7 linked regions of the Homo sapiens genome follow. The protein of the gene in region 5 interacts with the protein of the main gene of each other region in a biochemical or structural test. Each region holds a gene or a part of one and is shown on either strand. Other genes may lie near its edges. The genes, in order: CASK, MAST2, APBA2, IL16, TMEM178B, GRIP2 and PDZRN3.

Region 1 (3,500 bases), on a different chromosome or scaffold from region 5:
GATAAGCTTGTGCAATAGTTACAGAACTTGCCTTAGAATCTAGCATGCCACCTTCATCAACTCTGTTGAAAGAAAGAACCATGAAGTTAAAGACCAGCTGTCCATGCATTTCTCATCCATCTCTAGAAATGATCTAGCTGGCCCCTCTCCTGGTTAACTTTAGTTGCATTCATGCTATATTCATGTTGGTCACTGTCTGTAGACTTTTTCTTTTTAGTATTGCTGACTTCTTAGAATTGGAAAAATATGAACAGCATGTGGTTTCAAATTAATTCATATGATTTGTTGGATACTACATGAAAAGATATGTAGTATCTTTTAGATTTGGACATTTTAATGCATGTGTTCAGCATCTTTGGATGCCCCTGGTTCTAAAGAGCATTTTCATGGGCTTAAAAATGAAAATTTCTCCCTAGATGCTATATGACTTAAATTACATGTAAGCCATATATCATAAGTTGGATTCATATTTTTAAGACATGGTTTTAATATAACTGTAGTTTTGCCAGTAAAATTATAATTTATGTACATGAAATAGTCATTCTACAAATTTACCTTTCTTCTAAATCTTTGCGTTTTAGTGTTTGATCAATTAGATCTTGTCACATATGAAGAAGTAGTAAAACTGCCAGCATTCAAGAGGAAAACACTAGTCTTATTAGGTAAGTTTGATTGTGTAAGTGAGTTGCTTATTCTCACTTTCAAAACATTTTGTGAACATTATTAAGAGTTGTCAGTTTTAACATTCTTTTTTTCTAAATGACATAGGCGCACATGGTGTTGGGAGAAGACACATAAAAAACACTCTCATCACAAAGCACCCAGACCGGTTTGCGTACCCTATTCCACGTAAGCAATGTCTCAATCTCTTTTCATTATATTTTTCCTATCACTTTTTTAACTCTATAATTTATGTATTTTTTTCTGATTACATAAGGTATAACTGTTCATTGTAGGAAATTTGTAAAATCAAAAAAAGAACAAGGAGGAAAATGAGTTAACAGTAATCCCAACCCCTCTTTCCCTATAATAAGTGCTATAAATATTTTGTTGTATACCCTTCTAGGCTTCTCTGTTGTATACCCTTCTAGGCTTGTCTTAGTACAGATATGTGTATAAAGTGTGTGTGTGTGTGTGTGTGTGTGTGTGTGTGTGTGTGTGTTTTAAATAAAATTAGTTTTATCCATTCTGTTTGTAACAATTTTTCTAACAATATGTCATACACATTACCTAGATGAATTATTCTTCAGAAAAATAAGTTTTCATAGTTGTACAGTTTCTGATATGACAATTTTTTTCCCTTAGTTAATATTTAAATTGTTGATTTCTTACCACTTTTTAAACCCAATCAATATGCTAACAGTTGTTTCTGTAAAGATTTTCAAATCTGTAAGATTTTTAATTCTCCTTATTTTCCGTATCTTATTCTTAACCTCTTGCCCTCTTCATTTTCTCAATTGTAAAATGAAGTAATTCAGGATTGCAGAGAGGATTTGAGATCATGTGTATGAAGCACTTAGCAGATGGTGGATAAGTAGAAGCTATCTACCACTATCATTTCATTATTATCATCATTATTCTAAAGTTTAAAATTTTAGGCCAGGCGCGGTGGCTCATGCCTGTAATTCCAGCACTTTGGGAGGCTGAGGTGGGCGAATCACCTGAGGTCGGGAGTTTGAGACCAGCCTGACCAACATGGAGAAACCCCGTCTCTACTAAAAATACAAAATTAGCTAGGCATAGTGGTGCATGCCTGTAATCCCAGCTACTCAGCAGGCTGAAGCAGGAGAATCAGTTGAATCCGGAGGTGGAGGTTGTGGTGAGCCGAGATCGTGCCATTGCACTCCAGCCTGGGCAACAAGAGTGAAACTCCGTCTCAAAAAAAAATAAATAAAATTTTAACCCCAGAAGCTTTCTAGCAGCTCAGGGTTGGAAGAGCTAAAGGAAAATTATTTTTTAAGAGCAACAGGAGAAAATGTGAAGATTGGCTCCATTCTATAGGGCCTTCACATGCCTTCCTGAAGCAATGTCAATACCACTTACAGTTATCTGTACACCTCAGAGAGCCAGGAGGCTTCATGAGAAAACCTTCATCCCAAAACCTTGTCTGATTTACACAAGAAAAGAAATGTATCCAATAGTGTCTCATTTGGCACTACTGGGGTTTTCTAGTAAAACACTTTGAAGTGTTCTTTTAATTCTCCTTATGTCTAGATCATGAGTACAGCAAGCTTAGCTAACATTTAGCTTCTTCTTAACCACGTAACAACTGAACTTCCATGTTATTAAATGGCCAGTTAACTAGTTTGGTTTTAAAACTTACCTTTGATGATGTCAATCATGACTAGTCTTTGAAATATTTGACCCTGTATGTGTATATAACATATATCTAACTACTGAGATGACTGAAGATAGTACAACATCAATATGTTATGTAAGTTCTTGGCTGGGCGCGGTGGCTCACACCTATAATCCCAGCACTTTGGGAGGCCGAGATGGGTGGATCACATGAGACCAGGAGTTTGAGACCAGCCTGGCCAATGTGGTGAAACCCCATCTCTACTAAAAATACAAAAGTTAGCCGGGCATGGTGGCACACACCTGTAGTCCCAGCTATTAGGGTGGCTGAGGCATGAAAATCGCTTGGAACCCGGGAGCTGGAAGTTGCAGTGAGCTGAGATCTTGCTACTGCACTCCAGCCTGGGCAACAGAGTGAGACCCTGTCTCAATAAATAAATAAATAGTAACGCCGGTTCTTCAGCTTTTGATGTGCCTAGAGAAAGGGCTTCTCTTAAAATGTCCACATTTTGATGACCACGAGCACTTTATGTTCTAACAAACAGGCTAGCAGGAAAGGGGGATTCCCCATTAGTTTAGGCTCATGTATACAGAAGAGAGTAGCATAAATTTGTTCTTTCTCAAAGAAAGAAGGAAGCAAAGAAATTGAGAGAGAGAGGGAAAAAAAGGGAAGGAAGGGAGAAAAGAAAGGGGGGTAGGGAGAGAGAATATTAAAACCAGTGTTCCTGGCTCATCTAGAAAAACATTTCCTAAAGTGTGTTTTGCAGGATACTGGTCCTATTAGTATCCACAGAACTAGAGCTTATTGGCATATACTTCAGTTACACTCACTTAGGTGAGGGGTGGGCAAGCCTTTTCTGTAAAGGACCAGATAGTACACATTTGAGGCTTTAAGGCCATACAGTCTATCACAAGCACTTAGCTCTGCTGTTGTCTCATGAAAACAACCATAGGCAATATGTAAACAAAAGCACATGGCTGTGTTCCAGTAAAACTTTGTTTACAAAAACAGACAGTAGGTGGCCAGGTGCAGTGGCTCACACCTGTAATCCCAGCACTTTGGGAGACTGAGGCGGGCAGATCACCTGAGGTCAGGAGTTTGAGACCAGTCTGGCCAACATGGTGAAACCCCGTCTCTGTTGGAAATACAAAAAATAGCTGGGCATGGTGGTACACGCCTATAATCCCAGCTGCTCAGGAGG
Region 2 (3,500 bases), on a different chromosome or scaffold from region 5:
CTACAGTGGAGTTGGGAAGCATGAGGCATGAGGACATGTAAATAGTAATTACAATACTGCAAGAAGTGTTGCAGTTGAGGTCAGTACACAGCGTAACGGGAACCTGGAAAAGGAAGTGCTTTAGTCTTCCCTGGAAGGAACATTCAGTGAATGCTCCCTGGGGGACGTGAGGCTTATTCAGCAAACTGAAGGATGAGTCTAAGTTTCCCAGATCGGGAGCATGGGAAGGAGCATTCAGTGGGGCACAGGGTGGGTTTGAAGAAGTGCTGAGGGGTAAGCCTGGAAGGTAGGCTGTGACAGGGTCATGGAGGGTGTCGGGTTCTCGGCTCTGGAGTTTTTCATTACCCTTACGGCCACTTGGAGACACCAGAAAGTTTAGGTAAGAATGTGACATGGCCGCATTTACTTTTTTCTTAAAAAATATTATTAAGGTATAATTTTCATACAATAAAATATATCCCTTTGATGGTACAGTTCATTGAGATTTAACAAATACACACTTGTAGAATCGTGGCCACAGCTGACATAGAGAATATTTCTGTCATATAAGTTCCCTTGTGCCCCTTTGAAGTCAGTCCTCTCTTCCTCCTGCTCCCAGACAATAACTTAACTGCTTTGTTTCACTAGGGATGGGTTTGCCTTTTGTACAGTTTCCTAGAAATGAAACCATGTTTCTGTGTGGTTTCTGTAGTATGTTCTGAATTCTTTCACTCAGCATGTTTGTAGAAATTCATACATGTTGTTGCATGTATCAGTAATTGGTTCCTATTTATTTCTGTGTAAATATTACATCAGATTTAGTCCTAAGAAAGATTACTTTGGCTGCAACATGGATAGTGAATTGGAAGAGAGGGCAGGATGAGCCAGGGACATCAGGGGAGAGGTACTCAAAGCAAATTCATGTGAGATGGGGTGGCCAGAACTCAGACAGTGAATGGTAGGATAATAGAGAGAAAGAGGTGGATTAGAGGGGTATTTATGAGAGAGACATTCTGACCAAATAGGAGCTAAGGAAGGATAAGAAGTTAAAAGGACTTCCAGGTCTGGCGTAGGTTATATCCAGATAGGTACAGTTCTCCAAAACAGTGAGGCCACAGGGAATGAGAACAGAGTTCAGGGCAGAGGCTATGCTGTGATAGAGCAGAGAGCCTCTCCCTCAGGAACATGAAGTCCTTGGCTAAGCAGGGGCTTGGAGTCAGACCTGGGCTGAATGCTGGTTTTCTGTTCCTTCCTACTACTGTGATTATGGACAAATCAGTGCATCCCTGAAAGCCTTGATTTCCTCAGTGAGGTCAAAGAGTTGCTAGAGGGTTTAACCCAGTGTGTGGCACTTAGTAGGCACTCAGTTATTATGTGCAGACAAGGATTGTGCTTTTCAATGGATTTCCAGCCTCTAGCACATAGGAGGTGCCCAGTAAATATTTGAAGGTATACATGCACCAGTAGGGCTTTGCCAAAGCTCTTGTGAGCCATAATTGAGTGTGTGCCAGGACAGCTGTGGACTGGGCATCTGAATACACCAGACAGTGCCACCTGGCTGATGGAAAGCATGGGACCAGATCAATAGGCTGAGCTCTCTTTAGAGTAAAACCTCTAGTTCTTACTGCCAGGAAGACAGCATATGCTTAGCATGTCCAATCTGGAGGTGACCTGTAAGACATCTTTGTCCCCATTCCTGTGATCCCTGAATCATGTTGTTTCTGAATATTCAGGGGTGGGAGTGTCCTATCACAGAGAAAGTCTTGTTCATCTCAGTCTACTATATGCTGTAAAACCAAAGATGCCAGCAGCTTTCGCTTATATCTGTCACCACTGACTATCTCTCTCCCTTGGTACAGGAGTTTGACCCTGAAGAGTTCTACCACCTTTTAGAAGCAGCTGAGGGCCACGCCAAAGAGGGACAAGGGATTAAATGTGACATTCCCCGCTACATCGTTAGCCAGCTGGGCCTCACCCGGGATCCCCTAGAAGGTGAGCATGCTGCCTAGTGGCTGCAAAGAGGCCCCACTGCTGCTGGCAAGCTCTAACAGCAGGGAAGCTGCTTGGAAAAGAGACTTAGCTTGGACATGGACACAACATGGCCCCGGGGGCCTCAGGATTTTAGGAGATACCCTGTGATCTCTGTGACAAAACAGTCTTTACTTTGGAACTGCTGTTCACATCTGCCTGATAGATCCCAACCTGGATTGCATTGGCCCGGCTGAGTTGCATTTAGAACCTCAGTTCCAAAGAGGTCAACAACAAAGGGCCACAATCACATTTGCAAAAATGGTCACCTCCTCTGCAACTTGCCTCTACTCTTGGCCACCTTACAGGTCTTCCTGTGTCTTTGGGGTAGTCCAACACAGGGCTTCAGAGGATACTGCCATTCTTCTGGGCTTCCTGCTGAACCCCTGCAGCAACCATGGGCTTCCAAGTCCCTGGTCTGTAGGTATCCTGCTCCTGCCTTCTGTGCTTCCCAGCCCCATCCAGTGAAGCAGTCTTGGCCAGCAGGATGGGAACTAGTAACCCAGTTTCAGGCCCTGTTTTCCAGGAAATGTCCCCAGTTTATAGAATTTGCCAGGCCCTGTGAATGGCAATGGACTTCTGGAAATGGGAGTAGCAGTAGGATTTGGCTTGTTTCCTGATCCAAAAGCTGGGACTACATTGGGTATAGTGCCATGGGACTGAATTCACATCCTAGGCTGATGCAAAAAGCATTAATGACTACCCTACATGCACCTGTTGTGTGATCTGAGGATACTGCTGAGATACCTGACATTGCCACGCACATTCTTCTCTTGTATCTTTGTTTCCAGAAATGGCCCAGTTGAGCAGCTGTGACAGTCCTGACACTCCAGAGACAGATGATTCTATTGAGGTAAAAACCCTGAGCTCCTACCCCATTCCTGGAGCCTGGGCCCTATGAAGCAAAGAGCTATGAATTCTCTTTAAGAGAATATCTGAGGAAGGGATGGGGGAGTTGGTGACAGCAAACACTGAGAAGTCATTCTACTCCCAGAAGAATGAGCAGGAGACTGCACTAGAGCTGACAGCTGAGAAGATGCTAGAGCCACAGCTTCTGCAAGGATATGGGCTCTGAGAAGCATGCCTGTCTCCTGCCTTTTCCCTTGTCTTCCAGGGCCATGGGGCATCTCTGCCATCTAAAAAGACACCCTCTGAAGAGGACTTCGAGACCATTAAGCTCATCAGCAATGGCGCCTATGGGTAAAGGCAGGGGTCAGGGTGTGGCCAGGACTGAAGCCGGGTCAGCCTTTGATCTCTTCCATGTGAGAGTGTATGCTGCCCAGTCCTCTGGGCAGATGCCTCGGGGTGGACCTTCTCACTCCCAGAAGCCTCCTGGGTGGGCAGGAGTTCAGATTCCTCTGACATCCGATCATTGTTCCTTTCCCAGACAAGATTCCCACGCCTCTTACTACCACGCATCCTCCATTCCCTGAGCTCTGGGGAAGCATTGAGCCGTGTCATCAGGACATGGTCTATCAAGAAGTTTAAGAGTT
Region 3 (3,500 bases), on a different chromosome or scaffold from region 5:
TGAGAGGGTTGCTCACCAGGAGGCAGCCTGTGTGCCCAGCGGGGGCTGGGGGTGCTCTTTGTTCCCTTGGGTGGTGGTTGGCCCGAGTGCCCACAGGGAGGCTTCTCTGGCTCCTTCGTTTCCCAGAGTTCCTCCCCAACCCCCTGCCGCCCACCGCCTGGGTTGGGTCCAGCTCGTGTCTCAGAGCAGCCTGCTGGCACAGGCTGAGTCAGCTGTCGTGGGCACCGTCTTTTCTCGCCTCCCCTGAAGCCAATCTTCCCCTCTCTCCCTGTCCAGACACACAAGGGAGCCCTGGGAGGTAGGTGACCTCAAGATCATGCAGCCAGGCTCACTCTGTGGAACCCTACGTACTGGTGGGGTGCCACTGCTGTGTGCATTGTGATTTCTGTGCTGGCTGTGAGGTTTCCCAGGTTGGGGGCTGTGGGGTACTCCTGACTCTGCAAGTTGGCCCAGGCCAGGTGTGTCACCATTGCCCAGGCCTTCAGTGGCTTTCCAGTGCTCCCTCCACATCCACGTTACTCGGCTGGATTTTCTCAAGTTCCCCCACTTGCTCCCAAGAATGGCCCCTCCAGGCTGCCCTGGCTCCAGGCAGACAGGCTTACTGCCCAGATCTGCCCTGGGTTGTCCCCACCCCATCCCCACCTGTCATCTTGGCGCATGTCCATCCTGGAGATCCCAACTGAATGTGGGCTCTTTCCCTCTTATTCCTTGGTCCTCAGATTTGTCAGGCCACTCTTGCCTCAGGGCCTTTGCACCTGCTGTTCCCACCCCCTTGGCATGAGCCACCCCCAGATGCTCACATGGCTGGCCCCTCACTTATTGCCCACTCCCTGAAAGCCCTACATAAATTGGCTTTGTTAACCTTGCTTTGTGTTTCTCTTGTTAACCTTGCTTTGTGTTTCTCCTTAGTACTCACCATTCAGTGTGTTATTTATTTACTTGTTTGTTTATTGTCAGTCTCTTACCACTCAATTGTAAAAGACTTTGTTCACCTCTGGATCCCCAGTAGCTAGAAAAGTGCCTGGCACACAGCAGAGCCTTAGCGCTGTTGTTGGATGAGTGAGTGAACGAAACACGGGAGCAGTAGTCTCCTTGCAGCACATGTCCTGCTCCCTGTGCCTCCTTTTCCCGCGTCCCAGAGCTGGAACCTAGCTGTGTTCACATTTGGATCCTCCTGGCATGTAGCACAGACCCTCACTCAGTGGGCAGTCAGGAAAGAGCTGTAGAATTGTACAGTGCAACGTCAGTTTCACATAGGCCAGAGGAGAATGTGTTTGGGAAGGTAAGCAGCCCAAAGAGTGAGCTTTCTGATTCTGCACTAAGATTCCTTTTTGGATTTTCAGTTGTTTGGGTTCTCTGCACCCAGGCGGTCCCTGCTGCCAAAGTCAGCTCTGTGTCTCCCTGCAGTCACCTCGGATGTGGATGCACTTTGGAAGGAGGCACCCCCACGCCCAGATTCCCTTCCCACTCCATCTGGATCTTTCCAAACTTGTCTTGTATGTAATGTCAGACTCTGTCCCAGGGCTCCCAGCCACTCTGCTTTACCTTCCAGAAGCCTCCGCCTGCCTGACTGTCTCTTGCCTGTGTCCTGGCCTAGTTGGAGGAGATGCTTTAGTTTTATGAGAAAGGGACTGGGAGGTTGGAAAAGAGGATGGGATTTGGAGTAACAGGAGCTCAGTTCCAGCCTGGCCCTGCCACTAATCCCTGGGGCCCAGGGCCAGTCACCTGGCTTGAGAGTCTTTCTCAGCATCTGCAATACACGCACGAGGCCTCTTGCCTGCGGTTGTTTTGAGGCACAAATGAGATGCAATATTTAACTGATGCAAGATATTTTATGACAGCAAGTCATTTGGTGTGGCCACGTAGCCTTGGGCCTGTGTGGCTTCTCTTACTGTCCTGAGAGTTTTAAGGGTCAGGTTTGTGAGTTACAGCTACGGCCTAGTGAGAGAATGCAGAGGAGGCACGTCATAAACTCTAAGGGGCTGTTTTAATATAAGGTGCTATGTCTGTTGTTTTGTGTTTCAAGGATCAAAGTTAAGAGAAAAAAAATATGTGGTTGAACTTCCTGCATTGAGTGACTGAAAATATTTTCATCTCTAGTTTTCTGGAAACGGAAACACTCCAACATTTGAAGATGGTTTTGATGGCGAAACCACTGGAATGAAATGCACATCATTGGGCAATTCTGTGTGTTGAGTTTCATCCTTCTTTGTTTGTCATTTTAAATAATTTCCCGACAAATCTGGAAGGCACGTCTTGTCTTAACTTTGCAACAAGGAGGCTGGGGACAGGTAGCTGAGCTGTGGGTTGCCTAAGAACACTCTGCTGTGACGGGGCAGTGCTGGCCTTTGAGCCTGAGCTGGAGAGAGTGTGAGGCCCATGTTTTCTCCCTGTCTCCTGCTGGGGCCCATTTTGTATCAGATTTGTTTTTCACGGGGTGGGCATGACTAGGACTCGTGACCACTGGTGGGCAAGTACAGAGGCTAATTTTCAACACGTGCCGAGAGACTGATGGCTGGCATCAGAGAGTCATGGAAATGCCACAGATGACATGGGCCCTTCACAGGGATGGGGAGAGGGTCTGGGAGCTTGCCCTCCAGGAAGGTGGCTGACATGGTTGGTGGGACATGAAGGTGTTTTCCGTTTTGCACTTGAAGCCAACATGGATTCTTAGCACTTGTTGTCCCTAGAATCAACTGCGCAGAGAGATGCTTGGTTCTGAAACTCTCAGGCAAGGACAGTTCTGAGGAAACTCTCATTAGTAAATAGTGAGTCGGAGAACACTATTGACATTTGGCATTTTCAGTTGAGATATATGTGTACAGTCATGCGTCACATGACAGTGTTTTGGGGAATGATAGCATATATGACAGAGGTCCCATAAGATTATTATGGAGCTGAAAAATTCCTATTGCTTAGTGACATTGTCGTAAAGTTGTAGTGCAGTTACTTTATTTTTTAAAAAAATTTAATGTAGCCTAAGTGTACAATATTTATAAAGTCTACGCTAGTGTACAGATGGACTCACCCAGAGAAATTTCCAGTCTTGCAAGCTCCATTCATGGTTAGTGTCCTAGATGGGGTACTGTGTTATATATAATATATATATATGTTTTTTTGAGACGGAGTCTCGCCCTGTCACCCAGGCTGGAGTGCAGTGGCTCAATCTCAGCTCACGGCAAGCTCTGCCTCACGGGTTCATGCCATTCTCCTGCCTCAGCCTACCGAGTAGCTGGGACTACAGGCACCTGCCACCACGCCTGGTTAATTTTTTTGGATTTTTAGTAGAGACGGGGTTTCACTGTGTTAGCCAAGATGGTCTCGACCTCCTGACCTCATGATCCGCCCACCTCGGCCTCCCAAGGTGCTGGGATTACAGGCGTGAGCCACCACGCCTGGCCCATGTTTTATCTTTTATACCATATTTTTACTGTGCCTTTTCTATGTTTAGATAGATACTTGTGTTACAGTTGCCCACAGTATTCAGCGTGGTAACATGC
Region 4 (3,500 bases), on a different chromosome or scaffold from region 5:
CATCATCATCATTATTTAAAGCCCGAAATTCTCTTCTGAACATCCTTTTGGCCCCAACCCAGGAATTGTGAAATACAATATTCTAAATGTTATTTTAGGAATGGTCTGTAATTGCAGTTTTGATTCCCAATTTAAACTCAGTTCTTCAGGAGATTTTTGGTGTTATTGTTAATTTCATGTAGTTAAATTTCCCAGATTTAGTGTTGCTGTTCTTACAATTTTTTATTAGAAAATTCCAGTTTAATTGCATCGTGCCACAGGATGTGTCTTATTTTTATTTGTTGGAATTCATTGAGGTTTACTCTGTTAGCCAGTATGTGATGTGACTAAGTGTTTTATGTGTTCTGTGCACATTTGAAAAGAATGATTATTCTGTGTTTTGGGTTTCAAATATGTATATATTCAAATGTGATATTAAAATGCAGTCATTATGGTCAACAAAGAACTGCTTATATGATAGTGGTCCCATAAGATTAAAATACCATATTTTTACTGTACCTTTTGTTACAAATGTTCAGATACACAAATACTTACCACTGTGTTACAAATGCCTACAATAACATGCTGTACAGGCTTGTAGACTAGAAGCAGTAGGCAATACCATATAGCCTTGGGGTGTAGTAGGCTATACCATCCAGGTCTGTTTAAGTACCCTATGTAACGTTTGTACGACGATGAAATTTCTCAGAACTTATCTTCATTGCCATGCAACACATGACTGCATATATATGTAAGCACATATTCAATTTTGTAAGTCATAGAATTCAAGCTCTTTATGTACATTTTGTCTAATTAATCTGAAAAAATCTTAACAGTGGTGTACATTGAAATCTAACACCATATTTGGAGTATATCTCTAATTTTTTTGTTTTACATATTTCGACGCTTTATGTTTACCCAAAGTTTTCTGATTTTCATGCCTTCATTGAGTGCTCTTTTTATCATTTTGTAAAAAAGTAATTCTTGATCTATTTAATAGTTGCCTCAATTTTTATTTTGTCTGACAAAATTAACACTGACACCTCACTTTCTTTTAATTTGCATTTGCACAGTATTTTCCTATCCCTTTATTTGTAACTTTATGTGATTAAGTTTTAAATGTGTCTCTTGAAAGTGGGATATAATTGGACTGGGGAGAGAGAGTTTGTTTCTTTAGGCTTTTTTTGTTTCCCTTTTTTAAACTGAATCTGAGAGTCTCTTTTATTTTAATGTGTAATCTTACTACAGAGCTTAATTGATTCATCTTTCTTCTCACATGTTTTGTTTTTCTTATTATGGCTCCTTAATTATTCCTTTTCTTGTTTTCCAGTCAACTTATTCACACTTTCTTTTCCTTCTTAATGAATCATAGGTTTCATTCATTTTATTTGATATTACTGGTGGCTATGTAAAGAATTTTTCAAAGCAATATTTGAGCCTGTATTTTTCCTCTTCATTGATTGCAAGAATGGCACTATCTGATGCCTCTTCCCTATGCAAGAGGTGAGGTGCTAGGTGCTCTCAGAGTGATTGACTATTTAGGGGACATCATAGATCATTATATATCATCTCTCAAGATTTTTTTTTTTTTTTTGAGATGGAGTCTTGCTCTGTCATCTAGGCTGGAGTGCAATGGTGTGATCTCGGCTCACTGCAACCTCCGCCTCCCAGATTCAAGCCATTCTCCTGCCTTAGCCTCCCGAGTAGCTGGGATGACAGGCACGTGCCACTATGCCCGGCTAATTTTTGTATTTTTAGTACAGATGGGATTTCACCAGGTTGGCCAACTGGTCTTGAACTCCTGGCCTCAAATGATCCACCCACCTTGGCCCCCCAAGGTGCTGGGGTTACAAGTGTGAGCCACTGCGCCCGGTCTAAGATTTATCATTTGCTTTATTTCAAAATCGTATTAACAACCGTCACTGAGACTTAAAATTTGTCTTGTTTTGTGGCCTGTCAATTTTTTTATCATCATGGTCTGCTCCCCCAACCCCTCCAGGCTCTTGCTCTGCCCTATCTTGAACTCCATTCTATTACAGCACTAAACCTTTTCAGTCCCCTGAATGTCCCATGCGCTCTCTAGCTTCCAGGACTTGGTGCAGGCTGCTTCCAATGCCTTCCAAATTTTCTTTTTTTTCTTTTTTTTTTTTAATTTTGTTATTATTATACTTTAAGTTTTAGGGTACATGTGCACAACGTGCAGGTTTGTTACATACGTATACATGTGCCATGTTGATGTGCTGCACCCATTAACTCGTCATTTAGCATTCAATAAACGTAATCCAGCATATAAACAGAACCAAAGACAAAAACCACATGATTATCTCAATAGATGCAGAAAAGGCCTTTGAGAAAATTCAACAACCCATCATGCTAAAAACTCTCAATAAATTAGGTATTGATGGGACGTATTTCAAAATAATAAGAGCTATCTATGACAAACCCACAGCCAATATCATACTGAATGGGCAAAAACTGGAAGCATTCCCTTTGAAAACGGGCACAAGACAGGGAAGCCCTCTCTCACCACTCCTATTCAACATAGTGTTGGAAGTTCTGGCCAGGGCAATTAGGCAGGAGAAGGAAATAAAGGGTATTCAATTAGGAAAAGAGGAAGTCAAATTGTCCCTGTTTGCAGATGACATGATTGTATATCTAGAAAACCCCATCGTCTCAGCCCAAAATCTCCTTAAGCTGATAGGCAACTTCAGCAAAGTCTCAGGATACAAAATCAATGTATAAAAATCACAAGCTTTCTTATACACCAATAACAGACAAACAGAGAGCCAAATCATGAGTGAACTCCCATTCACAATTGCTTCAAAGAGAATAAAATACCTAGGAATCCAACTTACAAGGGATGTGAAGGACCTCTTCAAGGAGAACTACAAACCACTGCTCAAGGAAATAAAAGAGGATACAAACAAATGGAAGAACATTCCACGCTCATGGGTAGGAAGAATCAATATCGTGAAAATGGCCATACTGCCCAAGGTAATTTATAGATTCAATGTCATCCCCATCAAGCCACCAATGACTTTCTTCACAGAATTGGAAAAAACTACTTTAAAGTTCATATGGAACCAAAAAAGAGCCCGCATTGCCAAGTCAATCCTAAGCCAAAAGAACAAAGTTGGAGGCATCACGCTACCTGACTTCAAACTATACTACAAGGCTGCAGTAACCAAAACAGCATGGTACTGGTACCAAAACAGAGATATAGACCAATGGAATAGAACAGAGCCCTCAGAAATAATGCCGCATATCTACAACTATCTGATCTTTGACAAACCTGACAAAAACAAGCAATGGGGAAAGGATTCCCTATTTAATAAATGGTGCTGGGAAAACTGGCTAGCCATATGTAGAAAGCTGAAACTGGATCCCTTCCTTACACCTTATACAAAAATTAATTCAAGATGGATTAAAGACTTAAATGTTAGACCTAAAACCATAAAAACCCTGGAAGAAAACCTAGGCAATACCATTCAGGACATAGGCATGGGCAAGGACTTCATGTC
Region 5 (3,500 bases):
AGAATTCACAAGCAATTCCAATAACATATAGAACACAATTTTTACACTTAGTGTTCCTCTTAGATGGGCAGATTTTATAAGGAAGTTAAAAAGAGAAACTGATATCCCTATATTTAAATGAGACATTTTAGAAAAAGATGTTTATCTCACATTATTCATTAGAAACCGCAAAAGAGATCTCAGACCTCTGTCTTCTTTGAAATATCTACTTTGATTAAAATTCTGGAAGATATGTAATGGGCAAGGGAAAAAGAAAACCAGAGAAAAGACTTTAAAATCCGTTAATATATAGGAAAATTAGAGACTTATCTAAATGATCTAAAGAACTTAGTTATTTGTTAAATCGATGTTCATTACATTAGAAAGTGCTATTTGTGCATTTCAACATAAAACCACATAATTAATAAGAAAACGAACATCAAATCTATGTCTGATTTGAAGGTAAAGTCCTCTGGATTCATATTCATTCTGAAATCCATTCCCCTCCAGGACCTTCTGCCATGCTGTACCCACACGTATGCATTTCTCATCACTGTGTATTCATTTGTTTGCATTATTAAACTGTAAGTTCCTAGAGGTCAGGAAAGACCATCATTTGTTAAATACATTCACCAGATGCTTGGTATTTGGGAAATATTTCATACAAATTAGGTTCACAGAAATGTATCCATCCAAGCTTATTCTAATTATAGAAACACTTGTGTGAGAATTTAAGTAAAAAATTAGAAAATCGTGATGGGAAAATATGAAACAGTGTGGCTGTCAGGCCAGGTCAATATTGCAACAAATGCTACATAATCTATGAAGGGACGATTTCTTGAGCTTTGCCAAAGAATAAGGAAAACAGACAATTCTGTTTTGGATAACATGTCACTAAGCAGACACATATCACTTGTGGACATTATTTTTTATGATGGATAAGGTTTTAATTATTTCCTTCTTGGGGGTAAGATTGGATATAGGGTACAGCAAGGGTAGATTACCCTGAATTCCCATTTGTTGGCATCCATGACAAGTCTTAAATCAGGTCCTTTTGTCTTCTTGCTTTTAAATCTCATCCATGTCTCCCTAGTAAGTGACTGCAGGCACTGGGGACAGATCAGTGACAAGATCAGTTTCTGAAATCCAAGAGACTTCCAGACCCTTAGGAGGAGGAGTTATAGGTAGGATTTTGTTCTAGGGAACTCTAAGGGGAAAATTATATTATTTGGTTTGTACTAAAATATTATATTGATATAGTTTGAAATAAGTAGAACTTCAACTGATACTCTAAGAACTTTTTATTATTTGAAAATTGGCCTTATAATAGACTTTGACTTAAAGAGTTCCCATAATCACAGAGTGGTTGTCAATACTCCAAAAGTAATTTTAAGAAAACATTCACATATTTAAAAATTAATAATGGGATCAGCAAATATTTACTACACATGTATTGTGTTATGGGCACACATCGCTAGGATGAAGAAATGCATAAGATCTGGTCCTCAGAATTTGCATAGTCTGTTAGTGTCAGAGAAAATAGGTTACAACTACAGGATGATGAGAGCAGCAACAGAAACAGATGCAGAGGAACACAGAGAAAGTGATGGTGGATTGTGTCGGCAGTAGCGGGAGGTAGGCAGGAGGAGGTTAGGGAAAGTTGTCCTGAGGAAATGAAATCTGAACAAGATGTTTGATAAGGTTTGGAGGTGGATGTGGAGGAAGGATATTTCAGGCAATGGGCCAGCATATGCACAGCCATAGAGGTGTGGAACAGCAGTTTGGCCTTGTGAGTGTTGATTTCTGGGGCAAGGAGAAGGAGCAGACCAGGAGCTGGAGAGCAGCCATGGACCAAGTCAGGGAGCTCGTATATCAAATCCCCTACAGCTATGCTGCCCAGTTGGGGAGCCACAACCCACATGTGGCTGTTCAAGTTAACAATAACCAAAGTTAAATAAAATAGGCTGGGCACAGTGGTTCACGCCTGTAATCCCAGCACTTTGGGAGGCCGAGGCAGGTGAATCACTTGAGTTCAGGAGTTCGAGACCAGCCTCGCCAACATGGTGAAAACCCATCTCTAGTAAAAATACAAAAATTAGCTGGGCATGGTGGTGTGTGTCTGTAATGCCAGCTACTCAGGAGGCTGAGGCAGGAGAATCGCTTGAACCTAGGAGGTAGAGGTTGCGGTGATCTGGTATCATGCCGTTGCACTCCAGCCTGGGTGACAGAGCGAGACTCTGTCTCAAAAAACAAACAAACAAAAATTATTTCCGTAGTTGTATTGGCCACATTTCAAATGTTCAGTAGCCGTATGTGCCTACTGGCTATTGTATGGGACAGTGCAGATTACAGTGAACATTCCCACCATCGGAGAAAATTCTGTTGGACAGCGCCACGCAGAGCCTATAGCCTCTAAAAGAACCAAGCACATAACTTTGTTTCAGATGAGTATAATTCCATGATAACTTGGGTTTAAATTTAAGTATATCATTCTACACTTTAAGAAACTGCTACTTGAATATATTGGGCAGAAGGCTTTAGTTCATGGTCAATTATAGTAAATTTATATTTTAATTTTCTATCATCAACTCACAGAATTCTCACAAGCTTCTCCCTTCTTCCCTCCTGCCCTCTCCATCTCCATTAAACATCACTTGCAAAGTTGGTGGGGTGGGAAAGAGATTAATGATAATTATAGCCAATCTTGATGACAGGTCTCTCCTAAAAGTTTTATATGTATTAGCTAATTTATTGTTCATAATAACCCTAGGAAGTATAAGTATTATTTTAAATTCTCATCCTAAATTTGAGGGAACTGAGGCACAGAAAGGTCAGATAACTTGTGAATTCTCACAGTTAGTTAGGAAACAAAGGTGTCAGAATTTGAATTCTGGCTCTGGATGTGGGAACTCACCCACCACACTCTACCATCATCTTAGAATCTATCGGGGCAGGAGTGAGGTGGAGAAGAAACTGGGATATTGATTCCACAAATTGAGAATAAAAAGGAAATAATACTCTTGGAATCTCAATTCTAAATTGAAGTAATGAGAGTGGCTCACACACCCTGTTTTGAAGCTCACTGACCAAAGTGCATACACATTTTGTCATATAACTTTTGCTTATTTACTTCGCTTGCTGTGGTAGATGCTGAAATTATAGACATGAAGGACACATTCATTCATTCAACAAGTATTTATTGAGGGCCTTTGGGCTGTGCATCAGGTACAGTGTTGGACCAAATGGAGAAGCTTACATTCCAGAGGGGAGAGACGGACAATAAATAAATACTCCACGGCTGGGCACGGTGGCGCACGCCTGTAATCCCAGAATTTTGGGAGGCTGAGGAGGGCGGATTACGAGGTCAAGAGATTGAGACCATCCTGGCCAACATGGTTGAAACCCTGTGTCTACAGAAAATACAAAAATTAGCTGGGTGTGGTGGCGCATGCCTGTAATCCCAGCTACTCGAGAGGCTGAGGCAGGAGAATGGCTTGAATCCAGGAAGCGGAGGTTGCAGT
Region 6 (4,086 bases), on a different chromosome or scaffold from region 5:
CCATTTACAGATTAGGAGAATGAGAATCAAAGAGGTGGAATGAGTTTCTCAAGGTCAGAGACTAGGAAGAGACAGAGCCAGGACGCAAACTCAGGCGAAGGATCCCCCATGGCCACAGCCCCTGCTGTGGAGTAGGAGGCCAGGCCTGCCTGAGGAGTCTCAGAGCCAAGGGGTAGGCCTGGTGAGGGCCCCTCGGAGGAGTGGGTAGCCCAGGGCACAGCAGGGGGACCTTCACACATGTACACCCACACCCACTGAGACTTCCCTGCCCCCAGCATGGCAGCAAGTGCCTGCTCAGACCTAGCAGGCCTGGAACAAAGATGTCTTTGTGGCTGCGGAGTCAGAGCAGGCCTCCCGTCCTCAAGGCAGGAGAGTGAACATGGAGAGGGACTTCCTGCCAAAATCTGTGTTCAGGCCTACTGTGTGCCCCAGCCTGGGCCAATGGAGATAGGTCACAGTCCCTTCCTGCCAGAACTCTGGGGTTAGTGACAGGAAAGCAAGACTCCCTGGAGTGAGACGACATGCCCAGGGTGTGGGGCCTGAGAAGGGACCCACCCAGAGTCCATCAGGAGCAGAGAAAGGGCATAGGGCTGCCTGGTCCACAGAGCCCAGCTCCAATCGGGGCACTCACTGACGCACACTGCCAGTGGGCTGACTTCTCAGGGCTGCAGTCTTCTGTGCCAAATGTGGAGGTATATGGCTGTCCTTACCAGCAACAGGGGAGGTCACATGACCAGGCCTGGCCAATCAGAGGCTCAGCGATCCATCAGGGGTGGGCATGTGATACAAGTTGGACCAATGAGAGCCGTTTCTGGGGCATTTGCTGGAACTACTGGAAATAGGCTCTCTTTCCTTAGGGATGACTGAGCTGGTTGACCTTAAGTTTGAAGGTGCCAGGAACTCTCAAGGAGAGGAGAGAGTCTGCCTGGAAATGAAGCTCACTAAAGTGAAGCAGAGCAAGCTACGAAGAGACCCAGAGTCCTAATGATGTTAATTGAGCATCTGGATCCCACTGTGCCTGAAGCTCCATCTTTACACTTTTTGGAAGAAGAGCCTTGGTGCTGATGCAAACTGAAGCAAGTGTGATCATGAGGTTCTGTGACCTGGGGAGGAGACCTAGGGTGGAGGCTACAGTGGTGAGGGTAGAGGTCAAGTAAGTCATCAGAGAGAGAAAATGTCAGAGAGGTCAGGAAGGGCCTTGAATGCAAGGCTTAGGAGCTGAGCAGATTTGTGTTTTGGCAAGCTTCCTCCCATGGCAGCAAAGGGGTGGAGGCCAGGCCAGGGAGGAGACTGGGCAAAGGCCCAGGCAGTTGATGCTGACCCTGGGCCGAGGTGGAGGTCACAGGCCCATGAGGAGGGGGAGACACCTCCCTGGCAGTGCCCCAGGTAAGGTCTCCAGGGCACTGCTGCCTTTGTGGCCCTGACCACAGCAGACCAAGGTGACCCCACTCACCTGGGCCTTGGGTTGAAAGAACAGATGTGTCCAGGCCAAGAAGGCAGAGCCTCCATTTACAGTGCAGTTGCCAAGGATGGGTGGGCCCATCGGGTCAAATCCCAGCTTTGTCACTTCTGGCTATATAACCCTGAACAAGTCACTTAGCAGCTCTCTGCCTCAGTTTCCCCAACTGCAAAATGGAGAGAATAACAGTACCCAAGTGGCAGTGTAGTTATGAGGATTAAATGAGAAAATGCACAGAAAGCTTAGAAAAGAGCCTGGCCCAGAGGAAGCTCTCGACAACAGCCAGCTATTATGATTATGAGTGTTATTTTTCCTGGGTCGCTAAGGCTGGGTCCAGAGGTGACCTGGCTCTGCTCCTTGCCATGGGAAGGGAGGTGGGAATCAAAGTCCACTGGGCCCTCAGAAGCAGGGCTGGGGGCTCTGCAGTAAAAGTCATCGGGGTGTCAATCCCAGCTCGGCCACTGCCCTCCCTGAGCCTTGGTTTCCTCCTCTGTCCACTGGGACCACAGTCCTTGCCCTTGGAGCTGTGGTGCAAAGATATGTCAAGAGCGTGGGAAGAAACCAGTGAGGCAACCCCAGGGCAGTGAATGCAGTATGTTCTGGTCCAGGCCCCAAGCTCCCTCTTTGGAGGAATAGGGTGAGCCCAGGCTGAGGCTGGAGAGACAGATGGAACAATCGTGTCTGCCCCTCCCCTGGGTCCCAGCCTCAGCACACCCAGGAATGTGGCAGCTGTGATCCCCCATCCCACACATTCCCAGAGCCCCAGGGGCTCACCAGTCAGACCCCCAAACCAGAGTTTCTCCTCCTGCCGAGAACCAGTCTCCTGCCCAGCTGTGCCAGCACAGGAACTCCTCACCACCACCTTGCCCATGGGCCTTGGGCTCTCACCCCTCTGGGTCGGACACTCACTCCCACCAGGCAGCTGTGCAGATCCTGAGATTGGGCAAAAGGCTTCGCTCACACCCAGATAGGACCAGCCTTCCCCCTACAAGGCTGAGCACTGCCCTCGGAACCTCCAGACCCGCCTGTTCTGCCTGCCTGTGCTGGACAGCCCTGGGGGAGGCTCAGCCATCCTGCTACAGGACAGTGGCCAGGGTCAGACAGACAGCCCCAGCAAGTGTCCTGCCCCACCCTCCCCAAGCCCTGGGTCTCCAGGGAGTGGCAGTCCCAGGTCTCAGCCATCCAGTCCCCTCTCTCTGGGCAGCAGCTCCAGAGGGATCTATGTGTTCAGCCCCATCACTCTGCCCACAGACCCCCCATTACGTACCCGCCTCTCCAGGGGTCTCCCGGCTGAGCCCACACAGCATGTTCGCTATTGTCTCCCCTGCTGCCCACCAACTCCCTCGGGAGCCACGCTGCTTGGCCCTCCCTCCCCTCCCCAGGGAGGGGCTGTGGGAGGGAAGCTCACAGCTCCCACTGGCTGGGCACCGAGTCCACCCACTGCAGCGGGCGGCTCTCTGCTTAAAGGGGACATGGCTATTGTCAAGGCTGGCTCCAGGACAGGGTCCAACATGCCCCACCCCTGCAGCCTGGGTCTGGACAGGGGGTCTTTGAAGGTGGCATGCCTGGGGCTTCCCCCAGGGCTCTCAGGCAGAGAGAGAGCCTGCTTCTAACTTGCCCTGGGACTTTGGCAAACGACTCTTCCCTCACTAGGCATCAGTTTTTTCATCTGGAGACAGGGAACAGTGCTTTCCAAACTTTTTTTTTTTCTAAACGGCAGATTCCAAGAGAATTTGCACAGAACCCCAGGACATAAGCTAGATGAAGCACAGACTCTTTGACTGCATGAACAATGCCAGGGCGTCTCTGTAGGTCTCAGCTTAGAAACCCTTGAGCTTGGAGACCCTCCAGGGCCCTCCCACCAATGTTCCAACTACCTCTCCTAGGTATCAGTTTTCCCTCGGTAAAATGGGACTTAGGAAAGATGAACCCGGCAGCCTGCCACGTGGAGTGGCCACCCAGCTTTTTGTGAAGACCAAGTGAGCTGGGTGGAGGATCTGCCCGCCTCTGGGCTTGATAGGCAGGGCCAGTTGGTCACAGGCTCCAGCCACACCTGGCAGGCTCTGCCCCGTCCCAGACCCAGCTGGGCCTTAGCCTTGCACACTCCTGGGATTCCTCCACATTGGCTCAGGACTGACCAGGCTGATCTTAATGGACACCTGAGGCTCCTCCTCTACCTGTCTGTGAGAAGGGGTGGCAGGCTGCACCCAATTTCCCCTGCCCTCCATCCCACCAGTGTGTGCTGGCACCAACTGAGGGTCAGACACCAAGAAGGGTGGGGTGATGGTGACAGGGCACTGAATGGTGGATGTCAACAACCTGTACAACTGCACAGTGCGTCTGGCAACAGAGAACCAGACAGACAAGGCCTGGCTCCCATGGAGTTCCTGACCGCGTGGGAACACACGAGCCTCATATTTCTTCCATGTGCCCTGCAGCTAGTGGGAGAGGGCTGCCCGGTAGTTAGGGACCCGAGGTTTCTTGTGGGTTCCCTCCAGAACAGTGACCCCAGCATGGAATTTAGCCACAATTCCTGGGCCGCCCCACACTGGCTCCTGCCAGCCCAACGCTAGTGGCACCTTTAGAATAATCCAGGTTCTAAATCTGGGGCAGGGCTACTTGTGCTT
Region 7 (3,500 bases), on a different chromosome or scaffold from region 5:
TAATGGTCCTAATGGCTTGTGAGCTCCTTAAGGGCAGGCAGAGTGGTGACTTCGTGATTTTGCATTTCTAGGGCCAAACAGTATATTTAATGTAAGAGACAATAAAATGAACAGAATTGAAAATAAACACGAATATAAAGTCTGATGGCATCCAAGGTCTAGCTTAAAATATTAATACCAGACTAGTTTTCTAAACACCTGCGTTGTGTCTGCTTTTATTCATGAAAAGAGAGAAGCAGTCTTAGGAACACAGTGTCACATGCCTACGAGGGGCTCAGTCGTTCCTAGGCCCTGATAATGTTACACTGCAGGGACAGTGTGGACAATATTCGTGACTTGGCGGCACATCTCGACACTGCAGTGAATGAAAGGCACCACAAAAGCCTCGCTGGTGTGACTCAAGAGAACAAGAGGAAATGATAGCTTGGGCTGCTTTATCTGGGTCTGTGGCCTGTAGGTCAGGGGTCCTCTGGCTTTAATGGGCACCGAGGTACCTAGGAACCTTGTTAAAGTGCAGATTCTGATTCTGAAGATCTAGGGGGCCAAGTTTCTGTAGTTCCCACATCTCCTAGGTGAGAACTCTACTTTGACCAGCCAGGCTGCTGGTCCTCCTACCACACTTTGAACAACAGGGTTCTAGGGAACAGTTTCTGAGTGGCTCCCTCCTGCTGAAAGCAGGATGCTCTCAGGTGCTTCATGCTTTGAGGAGAAAGACTCAGTCTGGGCTAGTCTTAACACTTCTTTAATACTAGCTAATCTCCTTAGAGAAAAGGCAGGATGTAGTGGCCCCAGGCTCCCAACCCTCAGCAGGCACCCTTATTGAGCACCAGGATTTAATAAATAACACTGGCTTGTGTCCACTGTATTTAATTGTATGGGATTTTCTATTTAAGGCAATGGATGCTGACTTTCTGCTTGACGCAGTGGTATAGTGTTTCCTTTAAAATAAAATTACCGTAGTTTAAATAAGTTGAGTCGAATTAAAGAGAAATAGAAAGCACGTAAGAGTTCTGGTGATAGTCAGGTATAAGGAAAAACTGTAAGGCAGAATGGCCCAAATTGGGCAGATACTGTGGGGGCTCAGTGAATCTCCTGAAACCATATGCAAGCTCTCACAGACAGGAGCATTTTTCCAGAGCGGGGGGCTGTAGGTTCCATCAGATTCTCAAAGGTATTAGAAACTAAAAAAAGAACTAAAGAACCCACTGCTACAAAGTCAAGTTTAACTAAATACCAAAGACTACAAAGTCTCTACTACTTCATAACTCTAGCTTCTGAAACACTTTACAGCTTTTTAAAAGAACTCTACTTTGCCACAATTACATCATCAAAAAGCAGTGTCGTCCCATAAAGATTACGAAATAGCCCTCTGTTTGGAGAGCAGTGTTTCTCCAACAGTGTTCCAGAGAACTGTAGACTGAGGAAATATAAACAGGTACTTGGCCAGAGAGGTGGGGGAAATTCTGCCCACTCCCCCAGGGGATTCTAGGTAGATAGTCAAGATTCTCAGAAGTCCTCCAAGAAATCTGTTTCGTTGTCTTCAGTCTGGCATTTCCCAAATGTATTTCATTATGAACCCCCTTTGGAAGGAACATACATAACAAATTAAGGAACAAGTGTCCTGAAGGAGTCACGGCTGCTTCACCAAACAGCCCTGAAGCTGGGGTGATAGGACACTAAATAAGAGGCAGAATCCTGATTTTTGAAAATGACAAAACTACATTTTCTGGAACAATTGTTAAATGGCAAGCGCTTTGGTAAGTGGCTGACAGCAAGCAGAAACAGTCAAGTTTTTATAGTGAGAATACTGGCCATTGCTGTTTAGACCAGGTGCATTTAGGGAAAATTTTAAATTTCTGAAAACTGGCACAGAGTCAGTCATGCCACTGGCAACAAGTCCTTTGATTTGACTGTATCTGGCTAACCATCAGTGAAGTCATCGTTTGCACACAATTATTGATTTTTAACTTCTGTCTTGGAATGAGAACTCTTGGTAACTTTAAGTTGAGGAACATAGCTGTTTTCTACTATTTGACTGCTTCTGTCCTTGCACAGAACCTACTGCCACTGAACAATTCAACTTCAGAAGTATTGGTAGGACAGCATAGATTACACAACAGTTAGCCATGAAATTGGATAAAATGTTCGATTTTTCCTGGGTGACCTTTTGATGGTACCCAAGGGCTTACCTGTCAACATCAGGTGTCTTTTTACCTTATTCCATAAAATCAGCTTTCAAAAATGCTGTTATATTTTTTGAAACCCCATTGAAATATAAAAGTGTTTTCCCCAAAATATAAATATATTATACAAGTTAGTGTTTTCTGTATTTTCTATCACCCTTAATAAAAGGAAAATGGGAAGTAGAACTCTGTTGGCAACCTGGTGTCCTCTAAATATTTTAAACCTTAACAGAGACCTATTTGACATTATGTAGCATCTTGAATCTTTATTCCTGTGTGGCCTCAAATAACACTTAAGAAGAGTTGCAGACTTGTTTAATTTCTTCTGTATCAATGTTAGCAAACTTGAAGCAAGTGAAGCAGTGAACAAACCCTTTTGTTAGGGCGGGCTAGCATTCACTCAAGTAATTTATCCACCTACTCTTGAGCCATCTGCCTTTGAGTAAAGAGTGGTGATGACATAAAAGGGAGGAAGGTGAGGAGGCTTATGTTAGTTACAAGAATGTATGGATTATGTGGATTCAAAGGTTGACAACAGGATTTACTGTCCTAACTTTTAAGTGATTCAAATTAAAAAAAGTTTACATTTCTGCTTTTGGGACTTGATTATTAAGCTCTGTTTCCAAGGAAGGAAGAAGAATCTCAGTTGTGCCTTTCAAAGGGCATCAGTAAAAGTGGTTCTGCTTTTGTTACTTTCCATCGGCATCCGTAAACTAATTTATGCTTATAGAGAACTTATTAGGCATTCTGTGTTCTTAATAATGACTCCTAAAATGAGACAAGGATGTTCTTCATACCTCCAGCTCCAGCTCCTCCCTGTCCATCTCCTGATGGATGTCTCCAATGTAGTCATTTGGATCGTAGTATTCATGGGCTGAGGGATGCCTGAAAAGAGATGCAACATCTTTACAGCCCTTCTTCCGTTGTCAGTATCTGTTTTTCTTACACCCATTGTCAGGCCAGTGGCACAGTAGCAATTCCCAGGGTGTGGGCCCTTTCATGACTCACTTCCCTCTGGATGGGGCTCTCAGCACGGTCAGGACCTCCATCATCCTAATTTTACCATTTGCCTTTAGTACATTTCCTCCTGAAGGACTTAAGATGCAAAGTGCAAGCCTGATGGGCTTTGTTGTTTGCAGAGCCCATCCCGGAGCCTGCCAGTCACGTGATTCAGCGTGACTGATTTCTAACTCCATCTCTACGCAGGAAACAGGACAATATTTTACTGCTTATTGCTTCATTGTTAGATTTTATCTCTGCAGAGAACTAGGCTCGAGCCCAGGCAACAGTCTAAGATATGTGCTGGCCTCTGAGATC

What was found.
Region 1: the proteins of TMEM178B (region 5) and CASK interact in a test that uses a peptide from one of them, tested with the Homo sapiens proteins (one large-scale study listed by IntAct).
Region 2: the proteins of TMEM178B (region 5) and MAST2 interact in a test that uses a peptide from one of them, tested with the Homo sapiens proteins (one large-scale study listed by IntAct).
Region 3: the proteins of TMEM178B (region 5) and APBA2 interact in a test that uses a peptide from one of them, tested with the Homo sapiens proteins (one large-scale study listed by IntAct).
Region 4: the proteins of TMEM178B (region 5) and IL16 interact in a test that uses a peptide from one of them, tested with the Homo sapiens proteins (one large-scale study listed by IntAct).
Region 6: the proteins of TMEM178B (region 5) and GRIP2 interact in a test that uses a peptide from one of them, tested with the Homo sapiens proteins (one large-scale study listed by IntAct).
Region 7: the proteins of TMEM178B (region 5) and PDZRN3 interact in a test that uses a peptide from one of them, tested with the Homo sapiens proteins (one large-scale study listed by IntAct).

The regions. Positions count from the first base shown.
Region 1 is NC_000023.11:41,532,055-41,535,554, reverse strand, and holds part of CASK (peripheral plasma membrane protein CASK), read left to right. Parts: intron 1-581; coding exon 582-662; intron 663-768; coding exon 769-849; intron 850-3,500. UniProt on the Homo sapiens protein: Multidomain scaffolding Mg(2+)-independent protein kinase that catalyzes the phosphotransfer from ATP to proteins such as NRXN1, and plays a role in synaptic transmembrane protein anchoring and ion channel trafficking.
Region 2 is NC_000001.11:46,020,112-46,023,611, forward strand, and holds part of MAST2 (microtubule-associated serine/threonine-protein kinase 2), read left to right. Parts: intron 1-1,838; coding exon 1,839-1,971; intron 1,972-2,798; coding exon 2,799-2,860; intron 2,861-3,121; coding exon 3,122-3,207; intron 3,208-3,500. UniProt on the Homo sapiens protein: Appears to link the dystrophin/utrophin network with microtubule filaments via the syntrophins. Phosphorylation of DMD or UTRN may modulate their affinities for associated proteins. Functions in a multi-protein complex in spermatid maturation.
Region 3 is NC_000015.10:28,888,974-28,892,473, forward strand, and holds part of APBA2 (amyloid-beta A4 precursor protein-binding family A member 2), read left to right. Parts: intron 1-3,500. UniProt on the Homo sapiens protein: Putative function in synaptic vesicle exocytosis by binding to STXBP1, an essential component of the synaptic vesicle exocytotic machinery. May modulate processing of the amyloid-beta precursor protein (APP) and hence formation of APP-beta.
Region 4 is NC_000015.10:81,203,379-81,206,878, reverse strand, and holds part of IL16 (pro-interleukin-16), read right to left. Parts: intron 1-3,500. UniProt on the Homo sapiens protein: Interleukin-16 stimulates a migratory response in CD4+ lymphocytes, monocytes, and eosinophils. Primes CD4+ T-cells for IL-2 and IL-15 responsiveness. Also induces T-lymphocyte expression of interleukin 2 receptor. Ligand for CD4.
Region 5 is NC_000007.14:141,077,064-141,080,563, forward strand, and holds part of TMEM178B (transmembrane protein 178B precursor), read left to right. Parts: intron 1-3,500.
Region 6 is NC_000003.12:14,537,543-14,541,628, forward strand, and holds the start of GRIP2 (glutamate receptor-interacting protein 2), read right to left. Parts: upstream 2,801-4,086; 5' UTR 2,767-2,800; coding exon 2,727-2,766; intron 1-2,726.
Region 7 is NC_000003.12:73,397,942-73,401,441, forward strand, and holds part of PDZRN3 (E3 ubiquitin-protein ligase PDZRN3), read right to left. Parts: intron 3,069-3,500; coding exon 2,981-3,068; intron 1-2,980. UniProt on the Homo sapiens protein: E3 ubiquitin-protein ligase. Plays an important role in regulating the surface level of MUSK on myotubes. Mediates the ubiquitination of MUSK, promoting its endocytosis and lysosomal degradation. Might contribute to terminal myogenic differentiation.